Regions from separate parts of the Homo sapiens genome. Here region 1 is linked to region 2. The links come from fine-mapping of genetic effects on plasma protein levels. A gene starts in region 2. The other region holds a variant in brackets. All regions are shown on one strand. Distances are from middle to middle. Region 1 overlaps C7 (complement C7). Region 2 holds the start of C7 (complement C7).

What was found. A credible set is the group of variants that fine-mapping cannot tell apart. PIP is the chance, under the fine-mapping model, that this variant and not a neighbour inherited with it causes the effect. Protein levels are from antibody-based Olink assays in UK Biobank. Linkage for the fine-mapping came from a reference panel and not from the study's own genotypes, which makes the PIPs less certain.
Region 1: its variant is the best candidate, but not a certain one, in a credible set for the plasma level of the C7 protein (UK Biobank, PIP 0.71).

The regions. Positions count from the first base shown.
Region 1 is chr5:40,980,187-40,985,495 of GRCh38, forward strand. C7 (complement C7) reads left to right here. Exons shown (of 18, transcript NM_000587.4): 18 at 1,206-4,457. The coding sequence ends at 1,387. Among named protein-coding and RNA genes, the nearest start is that of C7, 73 kb to the left of the region's middle. The variant T/G (reference allele first, on the strand shown) is at 2,803.
Region 2 is chr5:40,906,971-40,912,344 of GRCh38, forward strand. C7 (complement C7) reads left to right here and starts at 2,527. Exons shown (of 18, transcript NM_000587.4): 1 at 2,527-2,646. The coding sequence starts at 2,641. It also overlaps the pseudogene RNU7-161P.

The DNA.
Region 1 (5,309 bases), 73 kb after region 2:
TTGTATTATCCATATTGTGTACTCATTTTTTAAAAGTCTGACATAAAAATAACTTAAAAATGAAAACTTTATATCATGTCCTTAAAAGGAGGTATCACTTGCCATAAATACTAGGTAACTATAAAAGTTATATGTAATGGAACTAAATAAAGTTGTGGACTCTAGCCAGATACTGGTCCAACATTGACTATGCTGTTTCTCTGTGAGTTTAGCAAGTGTTAGAGGGGTGTTAAAAACATACTAGCACCAAGCTGACACTTTCTTCTAGAAGTAATCAGACGGATTTGAAGAGAATAAAAGAAGAAGTTACTTTCTCACGTTGTGATTCAATATTTGCTAACACTATGTTTAAGTAGTACTTACAGTGATCTTGAACTCCCCCAAGAGCACAGCAAACCTCCCATGATTTGGGCAGTACTATGAAAGTGGAATGGCTGGGTCTCCAGAGCCAAGTCACTGTCTGGGCTTCCCTATCTGTAAATTTAGGAGCTGGACTCTATGACTTGTAAGGTCTCTGTCGTCTCTTCACTCTCTGCCCTCCTGGCCTGTACCCGCTGGCACCTGTCCCCTCACTCCCTCAAGGTTTGCAGCACAGACTGATGACATACATATGTGACTCTAGCCATGTCTGGGTCACTTTTGGTTAGGTGGTCACCATTGTCTGCTGGCTGACCTTGTTACTCATCTTTGGAAGACTCCTGGCTGGTGTATTCCAACCATGGACTTTCCATGCACAGACTCCTTGCCTCCTTAACTCATTTCTGGTTTGTTTTTTGGGATTTGTAGCCTTTTGCATGCCATGCTCTCTCTCAAAGCAAGTTAAGTTCTCTTTTTTTCTCTCTCTCTTTGTTTGAGTCTTGACTTGGTTCTTTGTTGAGGGCTTCTCATTTGACCTCAGTTGCTGGCTTATATGGACAGCAGCATGTATGTAGGAGATAGTTGAAGAGCTCTTGACTTGGATAAAACCACCCCATGTGGTCTAACCAATATAAAGCCTGCTACCAACCTCAAAACCTATTTCTTTGGAGTGGAGCAAAATGCCCCAATTTCCTGGTCCTACTGCTTTTCCAGGGGATAATTTATTATGTCATTCCAGGCAGGAGCTTCTACAGCTCTGATCACCACATTATTACTTTGGAGGTGATGTTCTTTGACTCCCCGACCTCCACAATGTACCATTAAGCCTCTTTCACTTACTTTTCCAGCTGAGAGCAGCAAATGTGTCTGCCGAGAAGCATCGGAGTGCGAGGAAGAAGGGTTTAGCATTTGTGTGGAAGTGAACGGCAAGGAGCAGACGATGTCTGAGTGTGAGGCGGGCGCTCTGAGATGCAGAGGGCAGAGCATCTCTGTCACCAGCATAAGGCCTTGTGCTGCGGAAACCCAGTAGGCTCCTGGAGGCCCTGGTCAGCTTGCTTGGAATCCAGCAGGCAGCTGGGGCTGAGTGAAAACATCTGCACAACTGGGCACTGGACAGCTTTTCCTTCTTCTCCAGTGTCTACCTTCCTCCTCAACTCCCAGCCATCTGTATAAACACAATCCTTTGTTCTCCCAAATCTGAATCGAATTACTCTTTTGCCTCCTTTTTAATGTCAGTAAGGATATGAGCCTTTGCACAGGCTGGCTGCGTGTTCTTGAAATAGGTGTTACCTTCTCTGGGCCTTGGTTTTTTAAAATCTGTAAAATTAGAGGATTGCACTAGAGAAACTTGAATGCTCCATTCAGGCCTATCATTTTATTAAGTATGATTGACACAGCCCATGGGCCAGAACACACTCTACAAAATGACTAGGATAACAGAAAGAACGTGATCTCCTGATTAGAGAGGGTGGTTTTCCTCAATGGAACCAAATATAAAGAGGACTTGAACAAAAATGACAGATACAAACTATTTCTATCCTGAGTAGTAATCTCACACTTCATCCTATAGAGTCAACCACCACAGATAGGAATTCCTTATTCTTTTTTTAATTTTTTTAAGACAGAGTCTCACTTTGTTGCCCAGGCTGGAGCGCAGTGGGGTGATCTCATCTCCCTGCAACCTCCGCCTCCTGGGTTCAAGCGATTCTTGTGCCTCAGCTTCCCAAGCAGCTGGGATTACAGGTGCCCGCCACCACGCCCAGCTAATTTTTGCATTTTTAGTAGAGATGGGGTTTCACCATGTTGGCCACGCTCGTCTCCAACTCCTGACCTCAGGTAATCCGCCTGCCTTGGCCTCCCAAAGTGCTGGGATTACAGACATGAACCACCACGCCTGGCTGGAATACTTACTCTTGTCGGGAGATTGAACCACTAAAATGTTAGAGCAGAATTCATTATGCTGTGGTCACAGGGGTGTCTTGTCTGAGAACAAATACAATTCAGTCTTCTCTTTGGGGTTTTAGTATGTGTCAAACATAGGACTGGAAGTTTGCCCCTGTTCTTTTTTCTTTTGAAAGAACATCAGTTCATGCCTGAGGCATGAGTGACTGTGCATTTGAGAATAGTTTTCCCTATTCTGTGGATACAGTCCCAGAGTTTTCAGGGAGTACACAGGTAGATTAGTTTGAAGCATTGACCTTTTATTTATTCCTTATTTCTCTTTCATCAAAACAAAACAGCAGCTGTGGGAGGAGAAATGAGAGGGCTTAAATGAAATTTAAAATAAGCTATATTATACAAATACTATCTCTGTATTGTTCTGACCCTGGTAAATATATTTCAAAACTTCAGATGACAAGGATTAGAACACTCATTAAAGATGCTATTCTTCAGAATTGTTTCATTTGTATGATGTTTCATTTTAGAGAAGATTTTCATGATGAA[T/G]GGTTAATGTGTTCTTGCCTGAAGTTTTATGTCTGATCCAGATCTAGCTTTTTGTATCAAAGTGTGCCCTAAGGGAAGATGCAGATATAATATGTTGAAGTTACAAGGAGGCAGGTTTCAATTGGTTAAAAACAATGACATTCAGACATTGCAACTGCATTTGTTAGCGGTTATTACAGAGTTAATTTCTACCCTGGATGGGAGGACACATTTGAACATGCTAGGCCTGGATGCAGACCCTGAGACAAAAGGTTGAACAAGTAATTCATTTGGAAGGAAATACCTCAGTATCCTTCCAATAATTTCTCCTCTTAGCTTAAGCTAGTATGGAGTTAGATTCCTACCGCTTATGTATCACCATGCCCCCTTCCTAAATAATACAGAGGATATGGTCAGCATTATCACATATCATCAGAGATTGAGGTTTGAAAGAAAGGAAATGAGTAGATGTAACTAAGAGGTTTGAGAAAGGAATTTCAGCAGAGTTATTGAAGGAGAAGTCAAGGAGAGGAGAAGGAGAGGAGCAGTGAATGTTGTCGTGAAGAGGTGTTGTCTTGAAATACTGTATTTTTTTCCTCCTTTTCTTTTCTGAACATTCTTGTGCTGACCTTTCCTCTAGTCCAACAGAGGCATTCACAATTGCCTGTGGAGAATTAGGATTGTCGCAGCAGGTCAGCAAGGAGAAAGTCATTTTTAAGATTAAATTTTTAAAAATGTTTTGAAACTTCCAAAATAAGTTCTTGAACACCTATGGAGAGGCTTTGAGGAAAGTTAAGGGAATGATTTTATACCACAAAAATAAATGGAAAAAGAATAAAGACTGTGAGAATTCCATCTTCCTGCCCTTTCCTGTGCCTCAGATCAGGTGAGGGTCATCTGGGTTAGAAGGGGATAGAGCCTTGGAGGAGGCAGAGGGCAGAAAGCATTGCTGAGATTAGAGTCATTTGGCCCTCAGAAGGAACAGACAAAGAGAAGGAAATTGGCTGGTGCATTAATCATCACTAGCTTCAGGGAGCTATGTGGAGGCCAAGGCACATCCTACAGATCATCGCTTACCACTCATGAGGACGCTACAAGTTACCTGGGCAGAGAAGGTGCCTGAGAATATTTCCTAATCGTTTTGAGAAGTGCCTTCCTGTGACATCTTATGTATTTCCTAATTGATCAAAAGTAGTGCTGCTTCTCTAAGCCCTGAGATTTAATGAGCCCCATTCAAACTGTTATTAATGTAACCTTCTTTCCCAGTGCAGGATGACTTGTAATCACCTTGAAAGAGAAGGAGGGTTCTTCGTATTCAGGTAGGGTATGGTAGGGATGTGGAGTGCCAAGCAGGAAATCTGACAAGTGACCCCCGGAACTTTGGATTACCTAGCAACTAGCCAGGTAACTGGCTAATCTGATTGAGGGTTGCCCTCTTTGCTGGGCAGATCATGGCTAATCTCAGCTTCACATGAGTCTTGTGAACCATCTAGTTGTTTTGTAACTGCTAAGAGCTGCAAGTGCTGAGCAGCTGGTTTATACAGCATTCCCTGAAACAGCCTAGTATGTGTCCATTTATGTGCCCGGCTTATTATGTGTCCACTTATGTGTCCAATTAGTAATCACTTTTTCTTTCGGTCAAGGTATGTGTATTAATCAATATTTTTTGAACCCGTCCTGTCTCAGTCTGTTTTATGCTGTTATAACAGAATATCACCAACTGGGTAATTTATAATGAGCATAAATTTATTTGGCTGCTGGTTCTGAAGGCTGGGAAGTCCATGAGCATGGTGCTGGCATCTGGCAGGGCCTTCATGCTGCATCATCCTATGGCAAAACGTGGAAGGGCAAGAGAGAGCAAGAGGAAGCAGGGGCTGAACTCGTTTTTATAACAAAAGCACCCTCATGATAACTAACCCATTCCCGTTACAACAACACAATCCATTCATAGCAGCAGAGACCTCATGTCCTAATCACTTCTTATGAAGGCTTGCCTCCCAACACGTGCATTGGAGGTTAAGTTTCCAACACATGAACTTTGGGAAACACATGCAAACCACGGCACCATGGTTTATCATTATTCTGTATTTTCTTTATGTTCCTATTCACATTTCTTATACACACATACTCACCCACCACAGGCATTTGGATTATTTGGAGATAATACACACATACTCACACATAATACACACAAACTTACTCACTTATACACACATACTCACCCACCACAGGCATTTGGATTATTTTCACAGCATAATAGCTAGTGGAAGTGGTCATCATCATAAACTTGAAGAAAACTTAAGATATTGCATACTTTGGGCACAAGATGAAGTGGGTATTCAGGGGTATCCAATACTTCTCTTTCTCTTCTCTGAAGTAGAGCGGATAGACAAAGAAGAGAAGAGAAAAGAAAAGGGGAGGCAGGAGAGATAGAAAGAGAGAGATAAATTGGGCCATTCTTAGTATGGGATTGGCAGAACTGAGTAGCCATACCAGTCCACTGAGATTTTTCTTCCTTGATGGACTAG
Region 2 (5,374 bases):
TGGGCTAATACGGTCCTTTATAGCATGTAAAGAACAAAAATAAGGAAGGATATAGCTTAAGGCTTCTACCTGTCAAAGCTGATAGCCTATCATATTACACATTTTAGAAAATATTGATCAAATTCAGGATGAAAAAATTAATACATGCATGTATATATAAATAAAAAGCTACTGTAGCAGATGCTGTTGGTACCCTACCCATATTCCTTCATCGCTCGCCTCTAAATGACAAAGGTAAACACCTGCAAATATTGCAAATGCTACAATTCCCTGCTTGAAAACCTTTACTTATGGCTGCAGGCGTGTGCTTAGCTTGCCCCCAGGGCAAGCTGGTAGTGCCAGAGAGCCAATGGGTTCAGAAGCTACCTTCATCATCAGCGATGGGTTTCCTTACCCCTTAATTGGACTAACTCTTTTTTTTTTTTTTTTTTTGGGGGACAGGCTCTCGCTCTGTCACCCAGGCTGCTCTTCAGCAGTGCAGTCTCTTCAGTGGTGCAATCTCACTTCACTGCTGCCTCTGCCTCCTGGGTTCCGGTGATTCTCGTGCCTCAGCCTCCTGAGTAGTTGGGATTACAGGCATGAACCACCATAACTGGCTTTTTTTTTTTTTTGTATTTTTAGTAGAGATGGGGCTTCACCATCATGGCTAGGCTGGTCTTGAACTCCTGACCTCAAGTGATCCACCCACCTCAGCCTCCCAAAGTGCTGGGATCACAGGTGTGAACCACCACACCTGGCTGGACTAACTCTTAATTGCAGAGTTCGTGTGCAATGTCTTTCAGAGTTCCTCATTAGAACTGAACTCAAATTGCCCACTGGAGTCTCTTGCTTGATAAAACACCCTTTATTGACTTTCTTTTCTCCCCAATCTCACTTTCCCACTTCCAGTGGTGCTTTCTAAGATTATCTCTTAAAACAAAAACAAAAACAAACTACTTGCAATTGAATTCTTGTTTCTGAATCTACTTCTGGGGGAACCCAAACTAAGAGAGCCGCTGAAATGGAATTGTATATTGAGAATTTAAGATGAGTCTATGGCATCTGGAATTTATGCAGTTGGAGCTGAATAAAAAATATTTCTTTCAGGAGTCAGGATCTTTGTCTCTGTGACAAAATTTCTTCCACACAAATCACTAAAGCTTTGAACAAAAGATGCGGAAGCTTTGTCTCTGGAAACCACCATTAATTTATGAGGGGAGGATAGGGGTTGTCTTTATTATTCCAGTGCTTTGGATATAGGAAGAAAAAGTCATTAAAGCTAGAAAATCTTCACTAATGGAATGTTTACTTATAAAATTATTCTTAACTCAAATTTTCTTTCCCGCTTAACATTTATTCTACCTCACTCATAATGCACTAGCAGCTAGTGTTAGAATATTTGGTCCAACAATACAAATAAAACTGTAGCTCAATTTTTTTTTTTTTTTTTTTTTTGAGATGGAATCTCACTCTGTCTCCCAGGCTGGAGTGCAGTGGTGCGATCTCAGCTCACTGCAACCTCCGCCTCCTGGGTTCAAGTGATTCTTCTCTCTCAGCCTCCTGAGTAGCTGGGACTACAAGTGCATGCTACCATGCCTGGCTAATTTTTTTGTGTTTTTAGTAGAGACGGGGTTTCACTGTATTGTCCAGGCTGGTCTCGAACTCCTGACCTCTTGGTCCGCTCGCCTTGGCCTCCCAAAGTGCTGGGATTACAGGCATGAGCCACCGCGCCTGGCCAACTGTAGCTCAGTTTCAATAGGAAATCTAAAATCTTGCAAAATAAGCAGCATTTTATTAAATGTATGAAGGTGATGTTGGGGACTTGCTAGAATCAATGCAAAGCTATGGGAAAATAAAGACCTGGTAGAATAAGACAAGATAAAAAGCAAAGGAGAGAAAATGGATGTGGATAATGACCCTGAGAAGAACTTTCCAACACAGTGATCTGATTATCAAAGGATTAAGTGAAGTTCTTGAGAAAATTAGTGATGTCCTCAAATATGTTTACAAAAATTGATATTCTTTCTGATTATTCTGTGAAAGTTAAGCATGAAGGGATGACTATTGGGTTGTATTAGGCTGTACTTTGGGGAAAAATTCTACTCCAGAACATTCTATTTAGATTTTGAGTGACAGAACTGCATTTAAATATTTTCTTTCATAAAATATTTAATCTCAAAGTCTGGCATATAACACCTTTTAAGAGAATCATGAAAACATCCACTTAGTTTAGTAGATTGAAACAAGAAGGAGGCTCATCCCTTGCCTTACAGAGTCTCCTTTGGTTGAAAATCACTTAAACATTGAACTGAGAACATTTGCTGTGTTTCCTGATTTATAGATATGTTTCTAAGAAACATATCTATAACTTCCAAACAGTCCCAGCTGGCTGTAGCTAAGGCTGTGTAATTGATAAGATGCATCTGGTTTCAAGGCACAGATTAAGTACAAGGTCAGGCTCTTGCTGTCGTTGGAGAATCCGGTTGGGGTAGGAGCTAAATCTCAGGACCACTTGCTCTATATATGAGTGCCAAGATAATCTAGAGCAGGGAGAGGCAGAGAGGCAGGCAGCCTGCTGGGCTCTTCCTGCTGTTGAAAACTTACCCGGCCCTTACAGAGGAAATCTTCCTCCTCTCTTCTGCCCTGAATGTTTTCCCAAACATGAAGGTAAGACAATAAATTCATTACTTTTGTAAATGAAGCTATCTTTTCAAATGAACGGGGGTAATATAAATGTAATTTAAACGAAGAGGTGTAATACCTAACTGAAAGACATCAAATAAATAGAAGGCCAGAGGAAAATACAGAAGAAAAAGACCTGGGGGTGATGTTTAGAAATCCTTATTTAAACATATTTAACAGTTCAGCCAAAGTGAATTCCTTTTTCTTATCTTGTGGTGAAATTATAGGTCCAGAGGTCTGGGAATCAGGAATTGGAGACAATGTTTATGAAAGTCCCGATAAAGTCATAAAGAAATACAATAGTACTATTGTTATTTCTTGGGAAAAACTTTCCTCTGGTGTATTTTTTTTTTTTTTTTTTGCTTGTTTGGATTAGGAGCCATGCAGTAGGGTCCTGCGATTTATCTAAGAGCTAATAGAAAAGCAAATTTGCAGGCTTGGAACTTGAGAATTTGAAATCCTGGATGAAAGAGTCAGCATTGTGAGAATAGAAGATATGAGTAGATGGAATAAAACTAAAGGTCTACCAAGTATACATGTTGGCCCAATGCAAAAAGGCCAAATATTAAAAAACAAAACAAAACACAACCAAAAAGCTATTCAACAAAAGATAAGACCAAAGATAGAAATCGCTATCATAGACTAAATCTCTGGAATGCAAAAATAAGTTGAGATTGCTATTCAAATTTTATTATTGTAAATTTTGGTATTTAAACTTTAAAAATGTTGCATTGTAAGACTGTAGGAATAATTTCACAGATCTGTCAGTGGCTAGATTGCTTCCATAGTCACTGTATTGTCCATTGGGGCACCGAATCCAAGCTCGCTCATTATTGGGGTTAGAGGAGGAGCAAGATATGGATCTTGATTAAGCCATGCCTTCTGTGAAATTAAATAATTAAAATTAAACACAAATAACAAAGTTAATTTGTTTAAAGTTATGATGGGCAGTCATAAAAAAGAATGAAATCATGTCCTTTGCAGCAACATGGAGGCAGATAGAGGTCATTATCCTAAGAAAATTAACGCAGGAACAGACAATCAAATACCCCATGTTCTTAATTTTTAAGTGGGAGCTAAATATTGGGTACTCATGGGCATAAAGATGGCAACACTAGACACTGCACTCCAGCCTGGGCAATAAGGTGAGACTCTCTCTCAAAAAAAAAAAAAACAAAAAAAAAACAAGAAAAGAAAATGATGCTCTTCTGAAAGTTATCTAGCCAAAATGTTTTTTCCTAATATTTGTGTTAACTATTAATCTTTTACTTTATTTTACAATAAGAAATCTTAATAATTGCTTTGTGCTTAAAAACATGTTTACAATCATTATTATAATATTTTACTGCTGTAATAATAAATATACTTCTATCCTTTAATTAGTTGACAAAATATCAACAAATAAAGCAATTAATTTTTTAAAAATTTTACATATAGGGGCTTTCCAGCAAAAATTGGGAAGCCTGATAGACAAGTTCTAAAACAACTGTAACACTAAAGCAATTATTTCACTCCAAGTCGCATGTAGAGTTCTTACCTGTATTTGAAAGTGGACATTCATATTTTTACAGTAAACCTGAAGGACATGCTTTGGTGATATGTGACAAAGAAGGGACACTTGTGAAAGCCTTGGGCTATCAAGAAGCTAGAAATGGTTTCTATGTCAGACTTTTTAAGAGGAAGCAATGTTTTGGCCCCACAGCCCCCACGTGAACTAAATTCAGAGAGACAGTCACAGGATTCCCTTTGGTTCTCTCTGTGTTCTTGGATAGGAAATAACTTGGATCTGAGGTGTTGGAGAAGGATGTCAGGGACAAGGGACTTCCCTCGGAGCTGGCTGTGGCCCAGCCATTTGTTCCGTCCCTCCAGGAGAGAGCTGAGCTTGGGGCCTGTGAATCTAGGGAATGGTCGTCACAGTGCCCAAGCACAGTGATGGTCAAGCACAGTAATGTCTCAAATCAGGATTGTAGCTGGGACATACTGGAAGAAGGAGGTAGAGCTAATGCTCATTCATTGATGATAAAGAGGAGAAGATAATTCAGGGGAATGTAGTTCCAGCTTAGCTACATTGACACAGAACAAAAATACCACACACTTTTTCTTTCTTTCTTTTTTTTTTTTTTTTGAGACAAAGTCTCACTCTGTTGCCCAGGCTGGAGTGCAGAGGTACGATCTCTGCTCACTCCAACTTCCGCCTCCTGGGTTCAAGCGATTCTTCTGCCTCAGCCTCCTGAGTAGCTGGGGCTACAGGCGTGCGCCACCATGCCTTGCTAATTTTTGTATTTTTTTTTTTTTTTTAGTAAAGATGGGGTTTCACCATATTGGCCAGGCTGGTCTTGAACTCCTGACCTCATGATCCACCTGCCTTGGCCTCCCAAAGTGCTGGGATTACAGGCATGAACCACCACGCCCGGCCCCACATACTTCTTCAACCAAGCAATTCTTTTATAGAGTCAGTTCAGATGTATGTCTATCACTGTCATTCACATGATTTATTTGTGTTTGTTCTATCTCTCTTGTTCATTTATAAGGTATTTTTTCCAAAGGTAATTATCCTAAGGCTAGCCAAATTTCAAGAAATGCTTTTGGTTAGTAGATTCACTTTGTATAACATGAACAGAACTGGTCTTGTAATAAGCAGACCTTGATGGGTTATAATGAGTATGTATATGAAGAAGGTGATGACAAAGGCATCCATGATGATAAAAAGTAT